Linked DNA regions of Homo sapiens: region 1 is linked to region 2. The links come from fine-mapping of genetic effects on gene expression. Tissue or cell type: whole blood. Region 2 holds a variant in brackets; the other region holds the start of a gene. All regions are shown on one strand. Distances are from middle to middle.

What was found. PIP is the estimated chance that this variant, and not a neighbour inherited with it, causes the effect.
Region 1: SLC12A7 starts here. The variant in region 2 is fine-mapped to the expression of SLC12A7 in whole blood (INTERVAL, PIP above 0.99).

What each region holds. Positions count from the first base shown.
Region 1 is chr5:1,110,063-1,117,532 of GRCh38, reverse strand. SLC12A7 (solute carrier family 12 member 7) reads left to right here and starts at 5,470. Exons shown (of 24, transcript NM_006598.3): 1 at 5,470-5,665. The coding sequence starts at 5,542. RefSeq lists an enhancer at 1-117.
Region 2 is chr5:1,135,340-1,146,415 of GRCh38, reverse strand. It overlaps a transcript of SLC12A7 not described here. Among named protein-coding and RNA genes, the nearest start is that of SLC12A7, 29 kb to the right of the region's middle. RefSeq lists enhancers at 5,079-5,922, 8,714-9,246. The variant T/C (reference allele first, on the strand shown) is at 5,654.

The DNA.
Region 1 (7,470 bases), 27 kb after region 2:
TAGCCTCCAGCTGCATGACTCCTAAACCACAATTTCTTTAATCTTGTGGCTAATTTGTTAATCCTACAAAGGCAGTCTAGCCCTCAGGCAAGAAGGAGGTTTATTTTAACTATAAACTAAGTTCCTCCCAAAGTTAGTTCAGCCTACGCCCAGGAAGGAACAAGGACAGCTTGGAGGTCAGAACCAAGATGGAGTCAGGTCGGAACCCTTCCACCAACGGTGATAATTTTGCAAACTTGGCTTCACTAGTTGCTTCGTTGCTCCATCTCGGGCTGGTAGGAACCCCTTCCCTGGCTGCCTCCCCAGCGAAGGCTGCACCCCCACCCCCGCAGGCCAGGCCCAGCTCACCCCAGCCTGCTCAGTGGCCCCTCGCAGTACGCTCCCCACCAGCCCCCCAGCCCATCCCCACGGCTCTGGGGTTTGAGCAGGACCCTCCGCGGCTCTGAGACAGAGCCAGCAAATCCCTGATCTCATGGTGTTGCTGGGGTCGGGGGCGGCATCCATGAGGGTTGGCCTCGTCTTCCAAACCCAGCTCTTTATGACGTCTGAGAGAGGATTGGCCACATCGTGTCCTGGGCTCTGCTTCCATTTCTGAAGGGCTGCGTGTCTGCCAGGTTGGGAGGTTTTGAGCCCATCTGGACCCTGGCATGGCCTTTCCCCCTGAGCCGACAGCAAACATTTGCCCAAGCTTCACGGGAAAGAAGTCACCTGTGGAGCAGGAACGAGAGCTGGCGGGGGGTGGGTGGGCTTCTGGGCAGCTTGGACTTCAGAGGAGATGCGAACCTTCCCTGTGTCTGCAACTCACGGGCGTCCGTGTGAGATTCTGAGTAACATTATGTGAGTTACACTTTGAGAGAAGGAAAGCCACACACGTGGTCTAAAAATCCTGGAGCCTCCTGAGTGAGGGGAAGAGTGTGTCGGACTCATCCACGGAATCTTCCAGAGGGAACTTGAGCGAAGACTCAGTGTCCGTGAATTACAGGACTGAGAGCTTTGTCGCTCAAGCTTGACCTTCTGTTGGCGTCACTTACAGTCTCAGACACAGATGGTCTGAGACGAGCTCTGTGGGAGGGGAGGCCCCTTCTATTCCCAGATTCAGCTCCATGGGATGTACCCCTGCCCAGCAGGCACAGGACCCGGGGGAGGCTCAGAACCCCACGTACCTGGCCACTGTGCAGACAGGCTCCCCAGCGCCAGGCCAGGCCCACCATCCACCAGGCCCAGAGGCCCCGCCCTGGGCAAGCCAGGGATCGGGGCGGGGGGCAGCTTGCGGTGCCTGCCTGGGAAGAGCCTGGCATTGTTTGCAGAACCCTTGGGACAGGGCTGCTTCTTCAGGGGAGATGCAGCCATGGGCCTGGGGCTGTGGCTGGGGTCTTCTGTCATCCCTGCCTACCACAGCTCCCTTCGAGCCCCCACAGGTGGTGGCGGATGTGGGGCTTTAGGGCCACCCTGGCCATGGGCAGAATTCTCGGCCCTGGTGGGACTCCTGGGCAGGGAGAGTGTGGGTCCCACAGGTGGCCGGAGACTCTGCTTCCTCCACTGATGTCCACATACCCCACCCTGCCAGGAGAGGCTCACCACGCTTAAAAAAAAAAAGGTTTGTTTTTTAAAAATCACTTTAGCCTTGGGTAACTGGGGCCTCCCTTCCCTCTCCTCCCTTCCCACCTCTTTCCTTTCCCTCCCCCTTCCCCCGATTCTCCTTCCTCCCCTCTCTCTTCTGCTCTGCCCTATTCGCTCTCTCCCCCACTCACCATGGGTGCTGGGCCAACAGGCAAGAACCTGGGTGGGTGCCCGGCCCTGCCAGGCAGAAGGCGGGTGGCTTTCTGGTGAGAAGGAGTGTGGGGCCTCCAGGGCCGGCCTCCTCCAGGTGTCCCCTTCCCTGGACACGGAGCTCTCCACGGACACTCTGCCTGCCAGCCCCACCTGCATCCTTCAGCCCTGGAGGTGCGCCCTGCCTGATACCCGACAGCAGGTTCCCAGCCCAGAAGGATGCAGATGGCGCACCAGGAGATGAGCCCCCCACCCTAACAGGAAAGCAGAAGTGGACTGGGGGGACCCGCGGACCTGGGGAGAAGCTCCGTGGGCAGAGGCACACAGATACCTGGAGGCAGCCTGCGTCTGGTGAGAGCCCTCCCAGGCCACAGCCCTGATTCCAAGCCGTGGGCACGAGCGGCCTCCTGGCTTGGAAGCTGGCATTGGGTGTCCGTCCTAATCCATTAGAAACTCCACCCCAGGGTGGCAGGCAGCAGGGACTGTTTCGAGAATCTACACACAGAATGTAACCACCATCGGCTACACTTTCGCACTAAATCCCAGGGTTCCCCTGGCTGTGCCCTGCACACGGCCAAGAGGCCATCGCAGATGACCAGGCTCACATCATAAGGATGCGAGATTGCATTTGAAGAGGCCCCCTGGGCAAAGCTGGACACCGATGCTTGGAAAGGGCACTAATGGTGATCGACTGAGACCCACCAATGTGTTTCATCAGCGATGTACAAATATACTTGGGAGATTGTCGGGAACCAATTCACCGTTGTGGAAACTGACAAATGAGGGAGAGGCACCCTTGCCCTGCCTTTCCTGTGGGCACCATTATCCAGATGGCCAGACGGACAAGATGAGCCTCTCCCTCCAGTGAATTCATGACGAAGCCACCACGCACTGGAAAATCACCATTTTGCTCCATGAATCTGTCGATTCAGACATCAAGCACCAACGACTGCGGACGGAGGAGCTACCACCAGACAGTGCGTGGCTCCCTCTGCGAGCCCCCGGCCTTGCCAGGGGACTGGACCCGGATCCCAGCAGTCCCCTGGCTCCAGGTGCCCACTTCCAGGAGACGCAGAGGCCTGCACCGAAAGATGCAGCTCCAACCCAGGCCTCGGGTACCTCCACGTGTCCGAGGGCCACTTCCTACAACAGGTGCCGGGTACAGAAAAGGACAGAGGGATGGAGGTGGGTAGGAAGAGAGCACTGAAAGTCACACAACGCACATTTAACCCCAGGCTGCCGTGTGGGAGGATATACGTGGACACGGAAACCCACAGAGCGAAGGGAGGGGCCACCAGACCCCTAGGGATGGGCTACTGATGGGATGGGAGGGGCCTGCAGCGGCTTCTGGGCTCCGGCAAGGGTCTCTGTCTTGACCCGCAGGTGCTTACAGGGTGCTGATCCCTGTCGTGACTCACCTGATTAGAATGCAAAAGGCAGCAGACCTCACCCCCCACCCGAGGTCTCCCACAAGTAAGATCTAAGATTTAAACAAGAGAAGCCACCTGCCTTCTGCCTGGCAGGGCTGGGCACCCACCCAGGTGCTTCAGCCATGGCCCCTGGTCCTAGTCAAGATTTTGTAATCACAGAGAAGACCACCCTCGGAGCTGCCACAGGACCCTAAACTCCTGGGCCTCAGTTTCCTCCTCTGTAAAATGAAGCTGATGAGTCCTGAGTCCGGGAGCTGGCCCTGGCCACAGACCCTCCAAACCAGCTCCTCTGAAGGTCCACAGCCAGCACATGGCGGGCAGCCGGCCCTGGGGTCCTGGGGTGTGAAGCAGAGCTTGGATGTGCGACGGGAGCCCTGCACATCTGTTGCTCCTGCTGGCATCACTTGGGAAGGCCTCGTGCCCACCCTGAGCTCTGTCCAACCCTCGGGAATAGCGCTGGGTGGCAACCAGGGTTGAATGTACAGAAGCCCCTGCTGGGGTGACTGAGGAGAGGGTTTACCCAGCACCCTAAGTGTGAACCCTATAATTGACCCCATTGGGCACTTCTGTTCCCACCCCCTGGATCTTTTTAGCAAAGCCAGCCCTCCTCATAAGGATGCCTGGGAACTATTTTATCTTCTGGGGAGGTGATGGTTTCCTACCTTCCAACCCACTGACCCAGGGAGGCAGCTGACCTAGCACCATCCACAGCCCTGAGCTCCCTTTGGTGGGAGGTGGGGTGAGAGTGTGGAGCAGGCACAGCTCCAGACACCCAGGCCAGAGGAACCCCCACCTCTGCAAGGGCTGGTGCTGGATGGGCGACGTTCCAGGAGGGTCCCAGGCCTACAGCTTCTGCCCAGAAGAGTCCATGGGGCAAAGGGGTAGAACCCTAGGCCACCCCAGGGCATGACTGGCTTTACTGGAAATGGCTGGAGAGGTTGGGCTTGCGTTCCTTGAACCCACAGAGCCCGGTGATCCCACAGCCCGGAGGCCATCACTCCCCTCCAGCTGCCTTTTAGGATTAGACAGGCAAGCGGCTAAAACATGGCCAGGCCATACCCATTTTCCACGTGACAAGAGGCTGTGGCCGTGTTTGCCCACACCACCTGTGTTTCTGCTTTGTTGTCGTACAGCAGTTGTGGGTGATTAGGAATAAAGGCTGACTCATTGCACCTGTGTGCCATAGCATTTTAGCCCAATTCCCCATTGACGGACATCTGATTGTTCCGTTTTTCATGAGTCATTTGTTGAGAAATGTGCCAGGTGCTGGCCGGTGGTATCCTGGTGTCTGCCTGGTGGGTTCTGGAACTCCACCTTCCCTGCATCACCCTGTGAGCTTCTGGAACATTTCCCAAGGAGGGAAGGGAGGGTTCTAGGGCAGGGGCCGCGGGGCACTCCTGGGGCAGGTGTGGAGGAGACTGGGGTCTTCGTGGGTGGTATTTGTCATGGGTGGGGGGGGGGACTCCCTCTACTGGGTTAGGTCCCTAAACTGGAGCTGGACCAAGCTCCGGAGTACCCCACCCCCAGGCTATCCAAGGCTCCTTCCACTGGAGTTGCCTTTGCAGCCAGGTTGGGCTAGCCAGGAGCCAGGCTAGGAGCCCAGGGTCTGAGCGGGTGTTGACAGCCTGGAGTGGGTGGGCGGACTGTGTGGGAGGTGGGTGCTGGAGGATGGCAGGGGGGAACAGGAGGGGGAAGAAGGAGGGGTAGGGGGCTGGAGCAGGAAATGGGGGGCAAACAGGAGGGGGTGCGGGAGGGGGCGCAGAAGGAGGAGGGGCCCAGCAGGAGGGGGTGCAGAAAGGGCAGGGGTTCCAGCAGGAGGGGGTTCATAGGGGCAGGGGGGCCCAGCAGGAGGGGGTGCAGGAAGGGTGGGGGGGTGCAGGAGGGGTGAGGGGTTCCAGCAGAAGGGCGTGCAGGAGGGGCAGGGGGCTGGAGCAGGAGTGGGGGGTCGGGGAAGGGGACAAGAGGGGAGGCGGGGAGGGGGCCGGGGAGGGCGGGGAGGGCGGGGAGTTCCAGCAGGAGGGGCAGGGGGCTGGAGCAGGAGGGGGTGCAGGAGACTGAGCGGGGATTCGCGGGCTCTGCGATGGTCGGGAGCGCAGGCAGCGAAAGCCCCGCGTCCCGGGTCGCGGCGGTCAGACAGACGCAGCCTGGGTTGGGGTCCCTGCAGGAAGTCGCCGCGGGCCAACTTTTCGTGGGGCCGCGGGGCAAGCAGGTGAAGTCACGTGGCCCGGGCGGGGCGGGGCGGCTCGGTCGGACCCCGCCCCTGCCTCCAAGTCCCGTGGCGTCGGCGGGAGCGGCGCAGCGCGGGCCGGGCCGGGACGGGGACTGTCGGCTGCAGGCGGCCATGCCCACCAACTTCACCGTGGTGCCCGTGGAGGCTCACGCCGACGGCGGCGGGGACGAGACTGCCGAGCGGACGGAGGCTCCGGGCACCCCCGAGGGCCCCGAGCCCGAGCGCCCCAGCCCGGGTGAGCGCGGCCGCACCTGGCCGGACAAAGGCCGAGCGCCCCGAGCGCGGGTCTGGGCCCGGCATCCGGGAGCGGAGGCGGGCGGCGGGGCCGGGGGTACAGGAGGCGCCCCTTCCCGCGCCCCCACCGCCTGTTCTCGGTCCCCCACGAGGGCCCCCACCCCACGTTAGTGGCAGCGCTAGGGGGCGAGGGGCCCTGCCAGGGCTCCCGGTACGGTCAGCTCGGGTGGGACCGGGGGCAGAGGTGTGGACGCCGCTGCTGGTAGCCATGGAAACGGGGAGGGGCTGGAGCGCGCCTCCGGAGGGAGCCCGGGCCCCTGGGTGGTCCCTAGTGGGACAGGGGTGGCGGTGGAGACCCGGGCGGTTCGGGAGCCGGGGCGTCCTGCGTCCCCCGCGCTCTCCCTTCCCCTGCGCCGCGGCCGTCCGGTAACACTAGCCCGGGCCGGCCCGTCCTGCCCCCGCCTGACCCTGGAGGAGCCGCCCACCCCCCAGAGGCGGAACAGGAAGGACTGCGCCCTGGCTGGGGAGGGGGCAGCCACCGGGGCCTTGCTCAGGCCGCGTCCTCCGTGTTCCCGTCCCCCGTTCCGGGAATCTGGAGGTTTCTAGCACTTTCACTTTCTCTAGGGGGTGGGGACGGGGCTGGGGAGAGAATCCCCCAGCCCTGTTCCCTCCATCCTGGCTCCAAATCCCAGTTACTCCCCGGATCTCAGCCCCCTCTAGAAACCGGAGGCTCTTAGGCCCTTCCATCCGGAGTCTCTGAGAAGGTGTCCGGACTCAGTCCAGCCCCCACCCCGCGTGCTGGCAGTGCCCGCATGTGCCCGGGTCTCATGCAGTGGGTGGCAGCCTCCCTGCTCCCTGGCAGTGGAAGGAAGGTGAGGTCTGTCCAGGGACAAGTCCGGTGCCAGACCCCAGATCCTTCCTAACCCACCATCCCGGGCAGGAAAGGCCAGACATCCCCTCCAGGCAGTTTAGGAACCCGGAGACACGGGTGGGGACCCACCGTGAAGGCAGTGGCCTGGTGGCCTGGGGTGCGTCATCAGGGTCCCCGTGGCGGGCGAAGAGTGGTCTCAGCTTCCTCTGCACAGAGGCCAGCCCAGATCTTGGAAGTGGTCAGGCGGGGCGCCAGGCTCAACACCAGGTGAAGTGCTAACTAAGCAGGGTCCGTGAGTCCAAGCCCCTTCTCTCCAGTCACCACCGTGGAGGCAGGAAGCACCAAGGAGTGTGGGCCCTGGCGTGGTCTTTCTGTGTGAGCTTTGTAGCAACGCCCCCGGAACGCACTCAGAAGGAGCCTCTTCTTGTCTGGCCGGCCCCTTCTCAAGGCTGATCAGGTTCACTTTTGTCTTTAGACTGTAAGTGTCATTTGCTTTTAAGCCAGAGAGAATTTTGTGCTTGTTCGTTTTCTTGTCTCTTCTACTCTCAAGGCTGTTGAGCAGTGCCCTGGGCCTGTGTCTGCCCAGCAGGAAGTGGCCCTGGCTGAGCGCTGCCCATGTCGCTGCCCGCGCACTCAGGTCCTGCTACGGGCGTGTCAGGAGGCTCCCTGGCCTTCATGAAATTGAGAACGGGAGGGCATGGGCCAGGTGTGGGCTTCTGGACACTTTTGAGGGTGGCCCTGTGGTGTGAGCTGAACTTGGGAGATTTCTCCGAACTGGCAGAGAACTTGCACCTGGCGCTTTTGTGCTGGACCCGCTTCCTACTTCCACAGAAAGGGCCCGGTGCCCAGCCACTGCCAGGCTGTAACGGGCACGCAGCTGCCCTTCGGAATCCACTTGATCACATCCTGATCTTCAGCCCACAGAGGTGCGGCGA
Region 2 (11,076 bases):
CACCCACATGCAGGCACCCCAGGCTTCATTCCACGGCCAGGTCAGAGGGACCCAGGCCTGGAGGTCCGTGGTCACTGGCCCAGGTGGTCACCTCCAGGGGTCACCAGCATCTGGGCTCCCACAACTCCACTCCAAAAGCCCACCTGCTGGCAGGTCCCTGAGGTCTCATCACAGACCTGGAGACTCTCCCAGAGGAGCCTCAAGAAGGTGGGTGACCAGGGAATGGCCCCTCCTGCTGGGAGCAGGTTCCAGGGAGAGCCTTTGGGAATGAGGAGGGATGGGGCAGCCAGACACAGAAAGGTCAATCCTGCAGAATAACAGTTGCAGGCAGAGCCTGGAGTTGTCAAATTCTGGGAGACGGAGGCAGAACGGGGACTGCCAGGGGCTGGGGGAGGGGAATGGGAGTCAGTTTAATGGGTGCAGAGCTGCAGTTTTGCAAAGGAAGTTCTGGAGAAGGATGGCGGTGATGGTTTTACAGCATTGTGACTGCATTTAATGCCACTGAACTGCTCACCCAAAAATGGTAAAAATGGTAAAATGTTATGTGTATTTTATCACAATACAAAAAATACCAAAAAGAAAATGCAAGCAGACAGTAGGGGCCTAGAGATAAACTAAACCCTCCCGCACCCCCAGCCCCTTCCTTCTGCAGAGGACAGAGGCGCTTGATCCTGGCCTCTAGTTTTCTGAGAGGAGGCCAGTTTGATTAAATCAATTCACACCTAGGCAGGCTCTCCAGGGAGGGGGTCCTGTTTAATCTAAATTACTCTCTGCAAGGTGCTCTTTCAGGCCTCTTGGAAGAGATATTTTTGTCCAGGGACCTTCCTGTTTCAAATAACATCCTTTGTGAGCCCTTCCTGGCTGGTCCTGGAAAGGTCAGTGAAGGGGCTGGCAGCCTCTGACTTCCTGTGGGCAGATTCCAGGAAGGGGCAGCAAGCCTGGCCGCTAGGCAGCCTGCAGCCTCCGATGGCTCCTCAGTGCTCCAAGAGCAAGCACCTGGCCGCAATTACCCCGCTGGGCACTCGGGGCTTCTGCAGGGGCACCTCAGCTGGGAATTAGGGGGAGGGGTGACCACCCCAGCAGCTGTGTCCCCACAGGGAGGGGGTCTGCGGAACCGGCCATCATTTACTGCACAGACCGTGTGATGGACATGAGCCCTCGCTGGTCTTCCAGGCCCACTGGCAGCGGCCCCTGCCTGGCCCTTGTGGCCACTCACTGTCCTGTCTCCAGAGACCCCACACCCAAGTGTGAGGGCCGAGTTCTCGGCCAGGTTCCCTTTGAAGAAGGGGTGATCCCTGGGCCCCCTGCGGCCTCCAGCTGCTGTCCCACGCAGGCTCTCTCCAGCCCTCCAGGCCCGGCCTGGCCGTGCCGACAGCACATGCTCCTTCCCCAGCCCCGGCCCGGTTGGTCCAGTGGTGCTGGCTGCTGCTGTGGGTGCTGCACTTCCTTCCTCGGATGCAGTAAACTTCACGTTTTGCCTCAGGACGTTCCGAATCAGCCATGGGAATTGAACACTGGTTTAAAGCCACATTGGTGTCATCCCTGCTTTCTGCCGCTCGGAGGCCTGTGCATGCGCAGCCGGGATGGCAGTGGCCCCTGTTTATTCAGACGGGCATTTCAGCAGGGCTGGAACTCAGAGACACACCTGGTTCTAGTCTTTGCTTCCTTGCCTGTAATTTTCTCACATGTCCCCACTGCAGCCTGGTGATCTGTTGGTCTGGAAGTGGTACAGGTGTTAATGGATAAATAGCTGTACTCAATTGTAAAGTGTGGTGCGGTCCGCTGGTTTGAGGGGTCATTTTCAAGGCGGGTGCCCACCAGGCTGCCTGCCTCACCAGCTCACCATGACCCAGCGTGACCTCACCGTGCCCTCCACCCAGCGTGACCCGGAGCTGAGGGCTCCTCCCGTTCCACAGTTGAATTCCTGCCCCCAAATTGTCATGATGATGCTGGGACCAAGAACAGGTGGGTGGGGGCAGTGGCGGCGGCCTGGGAGCAACTGGTTTAAAGCTGGAGTGAAAACCCTGACTCTCCAGGATCTCGTTCAAAGGGGCCACTCCTTGTCGGAGCTGCCCTGAGCTGCCCTGGCAGAGCAAGGCCCTGGCGTGGAGCCCGGGACGTGGGCCCCTGCCTTGTGGGAGCTTGGGCATGGCGTAAGCCCCAGACACCATCCTCTCCCGCCACCCGGCGCTGCGCCGGCCAACTTCCCCTCCCTGAGGTTGGCGGGTGCGTCCAGGTCCCCTCCCTGAGGTTGGTGGGTGCGTCCACGTCCTCTCCCTGAGGGTGGTGGGTGCGTCCAGGTCCCCTCTCTGAGGTTGGCGGGTGTGCCCCTCCCTGCAGGGCTGTTCGCCCCCTCCCTATTTCTTGGTTCTGGGCTGCAGTCTTAGAACACACTGGTGACAGCCGCCCGAGCCAGCCAGGGGTAGGAGGGCAGGGTGCCCAAGAGGCCAGGTTTCCCAGCGCCAGGGTGCCCAGGAGGCCAGGTTTCCCAGCGCCAGGGTGCCCAGGAGGCCAGGTTTCCCAGCGCCAGGGTGCCCAGGAGGCCAGGGTGCCAAGCGCCAGGGTGCCCAGGAGGCCAGGGTGCCCAGCACTCTGCCCGAGAGTGTCTGCTGGCCCCGGTGCAGCCACGGGTTTGCTGGTTGGTACTGAGGAAGGTGCAGGGCTTGCAGAGGGGACTGGGCAGGTCACATGTCTGAAGCTCAGCAGTGGGTGGCAGCGCTCTGGGTGAAGAAGCAGCACCAGGACACAGGGAGAACCCTGGGAAGGTCAGTGGAGGCGCATGCAGGACACAGACAGCTGCCGACTGAGTCGTGCCCCCAGATTCGCAGCTGAGGCCCAGCCCCAACGGGACTGTATCTGGAGCTAGGACCTTGAGGGAGGGACTTAAGGTTAAATGAGGTTGTGAGGAAGGCCCTGACCCAATAGGACGTGTCCTTGTAAGAAGAGAAAGCGACACCAGGGATGCGTGTGTGCAGAGGAGCGGCCGTGGGAGGACACAGGAGAAGCCACCGTCTGCGGGCCATGAATAGGCCTTGGGAGAAACCGCCCAGCAGCCCCTTGGTCTGGGACTTCCAGCCCCCAGGCTGCGAGGGAACAATTTCTAGTGTTGAAGCCCCCGCCCATGGCGCTTTGTTACAATTGCTGGAGCTGATGAGGCCGGTCTTACACTTGCCCCTTATCCGACAGGACTGGCACCAGCGCTGCGGGAGGTGGCGGGATGTCGGGAAGCTCCGGTCTTGGGAAATGCCACCTTCCGCAGGTGATCCTTGAGCTGCGGCTTCTGACCCTGCGGATGGAGGGGCATGTTGCCCAGGAGGCTGTGTTGGGGCCCTCAGGGAAGGAAGGCCCGTGTCACAGATGGAGCCGTAAGCTCTGTGGTGCCCGGCACGGGAACAAGCCTTCTTTGGCCGCCTCTCAGCCCCCGTTACCATGAATACCGGGGCCCGGGGCCTGGGGCCCAGGGCCCAGTGCCCTCCCAGGATGGAGAATGGGCCAGGAAAGTCCATTTCCTCTTCTGCTGACCTACTCCCCCTTACCTCCCCTGAGTTCTGAGCACGTTGCCCAAAGAACAGGGGCTCTGAGTGAGTTTGGGATTGGAGGGGAGGGGTGTGTATGGGGGGGGCAGCTGATGGTCACGGGTATTCTAGGGGGAAGATGTGGGGAGGGCCGTGAGCACCTCCTGCCTGGAGTTCTGGGCAGTGGCTCAGGAAGAGGGGAGGGGGACAGAGAGAGACACAGAGACAGAGACAGAGAGACAGGGAGACAGAGACAGCCAGACAGAGACAGCGAGAGACAGAGACACAGAGACAGAAAAACAGACAGAGACAGATGGACAGAGACAGAAAGAGAGACAGAGAGAGAGACACACACAGAGAAGCAGAGAACAGGGAAGAGAGGGGAGAGGGGAGAGAGGGGAGTGGGGAGGGGAAAGGGGAGGGGGAGGGGAGGGGGGAGTGGAGGGCAGAGAGGGGAGGGGACAGCGAAGATGAGAGAGTGAGGAGGGGAGAGGGGAAAGGGGAGAAGGGAGAGGGGAGACAGGAGAGGGTGGAGGGGAGAGGGGAGAGGGAAGAGGGGAGAGGGGAGAGGAGAGAGGGGAGAGGGGAGACGGGAGGGGCGAGGGGGGAGGGGAGAGGGGAGAGAGGGGACAGGAGACGGGGGAGGTTTTCTTCCTCCTGATTATGGGGGCACCAGGGCTTATAGGGCTGGGCTGCCCCTGCCCTGTGGAGCGTCTGGGCTCTGTATGGAGGGGCCCTGTCTGGGGCCCAGAGATGCTGCCAGGGGTGGCCGGGTGAACTGACTGCGGCCCAGTGCAGCTCTGGGGAGGGGAGTGGCCACCCTGACGCCACCTGCCCCGCCTCTAGCACCAGAAGCAAAGGTGGAGGCCAGGAAGCCCCGGGAAGTCCTGCAGGGCTGCAGGGAAGAGGGGTATCTCTAAGCAACAGCCACAGTTGGTGGCTGGGAGCACTTCAGACTCCACATGACCAGGTCTGATCCTGCCAGCAGCACCCATGATAATGGTGACTTGGGCAAAATGAAAGTTCACTTCTCCCTCACTAAGCATTTTGTTCTGAATTTGTTCATCTGTTGATCTGTCCCGGCGAACCCTCTTGTCTCTGCCTGAGTGTCCAGTGGCCTCTCTGCACCAACGGAGTTATTCCTTGTCCACGCTGTCCTATGCAGCAGCCACCGGCCACATGTGGCTATCGGCACTTGAGCTGTAGCTGCTGTGGCTGAGGACCTGGATTCTTCATTTTTTAAAAAAAATTTTAACTTAAATATAAACTTCAGTGACCACACAAGCTTAGTGGCTGCTGTCCCAGTGAGGTCTGGGTGCTGAGGACACAGTGGGGAAGACAGTCCCCAGGGAGCCTCCATCCCAGGAGATACAGAAAACAAGCCAGGGGAGAGCACAGAGAGGGAGGCAGGGACAGCTGTGGTGCCCGTGGCGGCTCTGGTGCCCATGGCGGCTGTGGTGCCCGTGGCAGCAGGGACGGCTGGGACAGCCAAGTTACAGGCTCAGTGACATCTCTCCATTAGGACTGGGAGAGGACTGGGGGTCCTACTGCCTAGCACTTGAGAATGTGATGGTATTGGGAGGGAGCTGTTTGCAGAGGTCATCAAGTGACAGCTCACAGGGGTGCATCCTAATTCAATATAACGGGTGTCCTTATTAAAAGGGGGAATTTGGACACAGAAATAGACACTCACAGAGCAGGGACGATACAGAGACACAGGGAGAAGCTGGGGCCTGCAAGCCAAGAAGAGGCCGGAACCGGTGCCCGCCTACAGCTCAGGGGAGCAGCCCAGCCACACACTGACCTGGGACTTCAGGCCCGAGGCTTCGAGACGTGTCTGTGGTGTGCACAGCCTGGCTGCACTCATTTCCACAGCGGCCCGAGCGTATTGGTATAAACGTCCCGTGTCCACCCTCCCCCTCAGCCTGGCTGCTCTGAACTGGCCCAGGCCCAGCTTGCCCACCTTGGCTGCAGCCCCCAACGGCTCTGCCTCATGCTGAGCCTCCCAAGGGGTTCCCCTCAGAACATTCTCCCATGGCGTGGTCACCTAGAAGCTACTCCGAGCTGTCATGCCGGTGCAGTGACCACATCCCTCCCCAGCCAGTGCTTGTCAATGGCCCTCCTGGGTGAATCTCCCT[T/C]CCCTGCACCCCCTCCGCCAGCCACCTGAGCCCTCCCCGGGGCCCTGGGCTCCGCCCTTGCGCCTCTCGTTGCCTGGTGAGCAGAGCTTTCTTGTCCCACTGGAGTAGAGAGCGTGGAGCCAGCGGTGCGAGTTCCTGAGCACGGGGAACTCCGGGATTGCTGGGCATGCTGGCACCGTCCTGAACCCCATCTCCCTGTTTACAGAATGACGCCTCCCTCCAGGGACAGCTGTGGGGAGGGGAAGCCAGCAGGGAGCACCCCCCCTCACCAGCAGGGGGCACCCACTCACCAGCAGGGAGCACCGCCTCGCTGGAGCTGCACCTGTTTCCTCCTCCCCTGCTTACCAGTGTCTTCCAGACCCGGTGGGGGGGAACAGAACCGAGGGAGATGGAGACGCAGGTGTGGCTGTGTGTGCAGATTGGCGGTCAGGATTCACCCGAGGGGCCATGGGGATCACATGCCTCATCGCCTGGGATGTGCTGGCTGGGGCAGGGCCACCTTTCTCAGGAGGGGGATCTGCCTGGGTTCCCATGGGGCCCTGCTCCCTGCATGCAGGTGGGCCGGGGCTGCAGCGGCTGGTACGAGACAGCCAGCCAGCGATGGGAAACAGCGTTTCTGGGGGGCCTTCTGAGGGCAGGACGGCGCCTCTGGGGTGCTGGTTGAGGCCAAGGCGGTGGTGCCTGGTCACCGACCTCGGAGCGTTTGATGCCCTGAGACCTGGGATGCTCTGGGAGACAGAGGTGCAGGCCGGGCGTGTCCTGACACCTTCCAGCATGTCCCGGCCTGGTCCGCATCTGTGACCACAGAGGTCTTCTTGGCACTTCTTGGGATCAGAGCCCTGAGGCCCATGCATCCGGAAACGCCGTTTGGAGATGTGGAAAGTCCCTTTTGACTCACAAAATCTGCCTTTGTCTCAGCAAGTGTCCCAGAACCGTGGGGACGTAGTGGCCCTAGACTGGGAAGTGGGGCTCGGGAACCAGATTCAGAATTACTCACCTTCCCCAAAGACACGGGGCCTGCCGGGAGGAGGGACGTGGGTCACAAAAGTGGGCCGTGGCCACCCCAGGGTCAAGCAAGCTCGCCGTGTGCACTCGGGGAAGGCAGGCTGTGCGGACGCCTACAGAGGAACATGGGGGCCACTCTGCCTCCTGTTTCCCGGCACCCACACCCGCTAGGGCCACTGCCCAAACAGTTCTCGAGGCAACCTCGGTTCCAGGTTCCGGCATGTGGCACCATTGCTGCTGTGTGGACACCACCCCTCAGAGAAGGCCAAGCCGGCAAGGCCCAGGCAGTGTCAACCGCCCCAGCTCCCAGAACCGCATCTGTCAGGCTGAGCCGCCTCTTGGTTTGGGGCCCAGGGCCCTCGTGAGGATGTAGCTGAGCACCAGCTGCATTTGCCTGGAGTGGTTCCTGCCTTCCAGGGGCTGCTCCCCACCAGGGCTGGGCTTGGGTGCAGGCACTGGGGCCGCACGTCCTGGGGAGATGCTGTTACCAGCGAGGGTCCCCCGCCAGGATCCCAGCCGGCTGCCGTGGAGGCCAAGGGCTCACACTTTCCCCCTTCCTCTTGCCTACGGACCATGAGGACTCAGCAGCCACCTGGTGGGCTACGCCCATGGGGATGAGGAGGGAGCCCAGCTGTGGGGACCATCGGAGGCTCCCAAAGTGCACCTGCTGCCGCCCAGAGCCCCCCCCCCACCCCAAGCTTGGGTGAGGGGCGACCCCTGCAGCTGTTTCAAAGTCAAGACTTCAGCTTGCTCTCCTTTCAGAGGCCTGGGTGGTGGGTGCAGGTCCAAGGCTTCTGGCCAGTGCCCTGGAGTCGAGTATCCCCGGCTCACCTCAGGGCACATGTTAGGACCCAGCATGTGTTAAGGACCTGGTAGAAAGCTGTGTGTTGCAGTTGAACAGACACCCTGGGGCTCCCACTGTGCACACAGGGCTGTGTCGGGCAGTGGGGCTTAGCTTCCTGGGCCTCTCTCTGGAGCCCAAGTCCTTCTAAGTTTGGACCTTGATCCTGTTTTGGTTTCAAGGTTTGTAGTAAACTAAACGGTGGCCTCCAAAGAGCTACATCTATGTCCTGATTCCTGGAACCCGAGAATATGACCTTATTTGGAAAAGAATCTTTGCATGTGGGGTAAAGATCTCCAGCTGAAGTCGCCCCAGTTTATGTGAGCGGGCTCTAAGCCCACTGGCAAATCAGAAACAGACGAGGAGAGAGGCACACAGAGGAGGAGGCCCTATGAGGTTGAGAGGTGAAGCCCGCTGGGCCTCTGGGTAGGGTGGGGACTTGTAGAACTTTTCTGTCTAGCTAAAGGATTGTAAACACACCAATGAGCAGCTCTGTGTGTAGCTAAAGGTTTGTAAATGCACCAATCAGCACTCTGTAAAAATGGAGCAATCAGCACTCTGTAAAATGAACCAATCAGTGTTCTGTAAAATGGACCAATCAGCAGGATGTGGGTGGGGTCAAATAAGGGAATAAAAGCCGCCCTGCCCTGCCCCACCCCGCCGGCAGTGGGTGGTGCCCTGGGGTTCATTTCAATGATGTGGAAGGTTTGTGTTTTTTTCCGCTTTTCCCCTTTTGCAATAAATCTTGCTGCTGCTCACTCTTTGGGTCCGTGCCACGTTTAAGAGCTGTAACACTGCAAAGATCTGGGACTTCATTCTTGAAGTCAGCATAAACCAAGAACCCACTGGAAGGAACCAACTCTGGACACAGCGTGACCACTTCTGAGAAGAGGAGGGGCGGGTGCCGGCGGCTATCCCTGCTCCAGGGTCACTCAGGAACCAGGAGCCCAGGAACCAGCCCGGCAAGAGAGACTGCTCCTTCTGCCACAGCTCACTGGACCCCCTTAGGGTGTCTTCCACAGCGCTGGCGCCGACATCCATGATTCTCCTCACAGTGCGCCAGGCCCCGGGGAGCTGGTGCCGGGGGAGGGGCAGATCCAGGCGCTTGTGCTGTCTTCTCCGCCAGCCAGACCAAGGGTTCTGATGACGCACCTGGGCGAGCAGGGAGGGCCTGACCTGCAGAGGCCATGTCCAGGAAGAGGAGCCCCGGCCCCGAATCGCCCAGATGTGTGGCCCAAGGACAGCCGTGCGAAGTCCTGGGGCGGGCCCTGTTTGCCAAGTCCAGGATGAGGCCATGGACATGAGTGGGGACCACCCGGAGGGGAACGGGGTCATTCAGTGCCTGCTCGGGGGGTCTGGACGTCCAGGCAGGTTGAGGAGGAGGGGGAAGGTGTGGACAACGGGAAGGGAAGGTGTAGCTGGAGCTGAAGGTGGTCTTCTAGCAGTGGGGACCCCCTGGGGCTGGGTGCGGTGTATTTGACGTCCCTGGCAGGTGCTGAGCTGTAAGGAAACAAGGTGGGGAGGCAGGCAGTCAGGGATGGAGTCCTGGCTCTCTGGGCCAAGGTTCTTTGTCATTCGTGGTCTGATCCTTGTCCTTCGGAGTCCTTGGTTTCTCGGGGCACAGATGGAGGGGGCTACGCAGGAAGTGGCTCCGGATCGTGCCTGGCCTCGAGTGCTCTGGGAAGAGGGCACAGGTGGCCCCGCCTGTGATGGGGGCATGAATCCTTGGAGTAGGGGCAGGGTGAGCTTGAGGGGGTGAAAACCCGGGACTGCAGCGGCCTCACTGTGGCTGGGTGTGGCTCTGTGCAGCCAGCTCTGGGCTGGGAAACACTGGCTGTAGACACACGTGTGTCTGCATGTGTGTCCTGGTGTTGGAGTGTGTGAGCACGTGTGTGTGTCCTGCTGTTGGTGTGTGTGCACATGTGTGTCCTGGTGGTGTGTGAGTACATGTGTGTGTGTCCTGGTGGTATGTGTGCACGTCTGTGTGTCCTGGTGTTGGTGTCTGAGCACATGTGTGCCTGCGTGTCCTGCTGTTTGAGCATATGTGTGCCTGCGTGTCCTGCTGTTTGAGCATATGTGTGCCTGCGTGTCCTGGTGTTGGTGTCTGAGCACGTGTGTGCCTGCGTGTCCTGGTGTTGGTGTCTGAGCACACGTGTGCCTGCGTGTCCTGGTGTTGGTGTCTGAGCACACGTGTGCCTGCGTGTCCTGGTGTTGGTGTCTGAGCACGTGTGTGCCTGCGTGTCCTGGTGTTGGTGTCTGAGCACATGTGTGCCTGCGTGTCCTGGTGTTGGTGTCTGAGCACACGTGTGTCTGCGTGTCCTGGTGGTGTCTGAGCATATGTGTGCCTGCGTGTCCTGGTGTTGGTGTCTGAGCACACGTGTGCCTGCGTGTACTGGTGTTGGTGTCTGACCACGTGTGTGCCTGCGTGTCCTGGTGTTGGTGTCTGAGCACACGTGTGCCTGCGTGTCCTGGTGTTGGTGTCTGAGCACACGTGTGCCTGCGTGTCCTGGTGTTGGTGTCTGAGCACACGTGTGTCTGCGTGTCCTGGTGTTGGTGTCTGAGCACGTGTGTGCCTGCGTGTCCTGGTGTTGGGGTGTGTGCACATGTCTGTGTGTCAGTCGTGTCTCATGTCTTGGTGGGTGTCAGGAGGAGTCGTGATTTCTCGGAGCTGGGTTGGAGGGACAGTGGAGTGTTTCCCTCTATTGCACGGATGGTTCCTTGGGAGGACAAAGCCGCACAGCAGTGCCTGCAGGAGCAGAGACGGCCACGATTCTCCCTCCTCCTGTGGCCTCTCCGCAGTCTCCTCTTCCATGGCCTCTGAACCTTCTCATCAGCAGCTGTTTGCTTAAACATGGGAATCTCAGCATGAATCAAGGGGCAATGTGCATCCGTGTCCTCTGGACCCGAGCCAGGCCTGGAGATGGTGTGCTGCTTACCCCTGCACCCCGCAGGGCCGACGAGGCCACCATTTCTGTGGGAAACTTACAGGATGAGCAGGGAGGTTGAGGGAAACGGGGAGTGCGTTTTGGATGTGGGGATGGTGCAGTCCAAGCTGGCACTGTTTGTCAAACTCTTGAAGATATTTTTGGAAAACCCACCAGCTGTGAAACTGCACTCCTCTGCAAGAGACCTGGTGTGTTCCTGCCCTTACCAGGGCGAGGGACTTAAGCTGAGCCTTCAGTAAACCCTGAATGGGATGTTTGTCTTTCCAGGAATATCGTCACACTGTCACCACTCATGCACGCACCTGAAGCTGCGTGTGGCATCACTTTGCACATGTTCACACTTACAGAAATGGCACTAGGGGTAAGCACCGCCCTAGACTTGTTTTGGAGCTGTCTTTGTACCCCTGTGGCGACTTCAACCCTGGGACCAGCATCATGTATCTCCATGGCCACCCTGGATCCCGGGGCAGCAGGGCTGGGGACGAGGGCCGCAGGTGACATCACCCACAGTTGACTGCACCTGGGCTGGAGCGAGAATGGCTAGTGTTGAGGCATTTGTCCAAGGCCCTGGAAACGGGCCTAGTGTTGAGGCATTTGTCCAAGGCCCTGGAAAACGGAGCATGGTGGTTGTG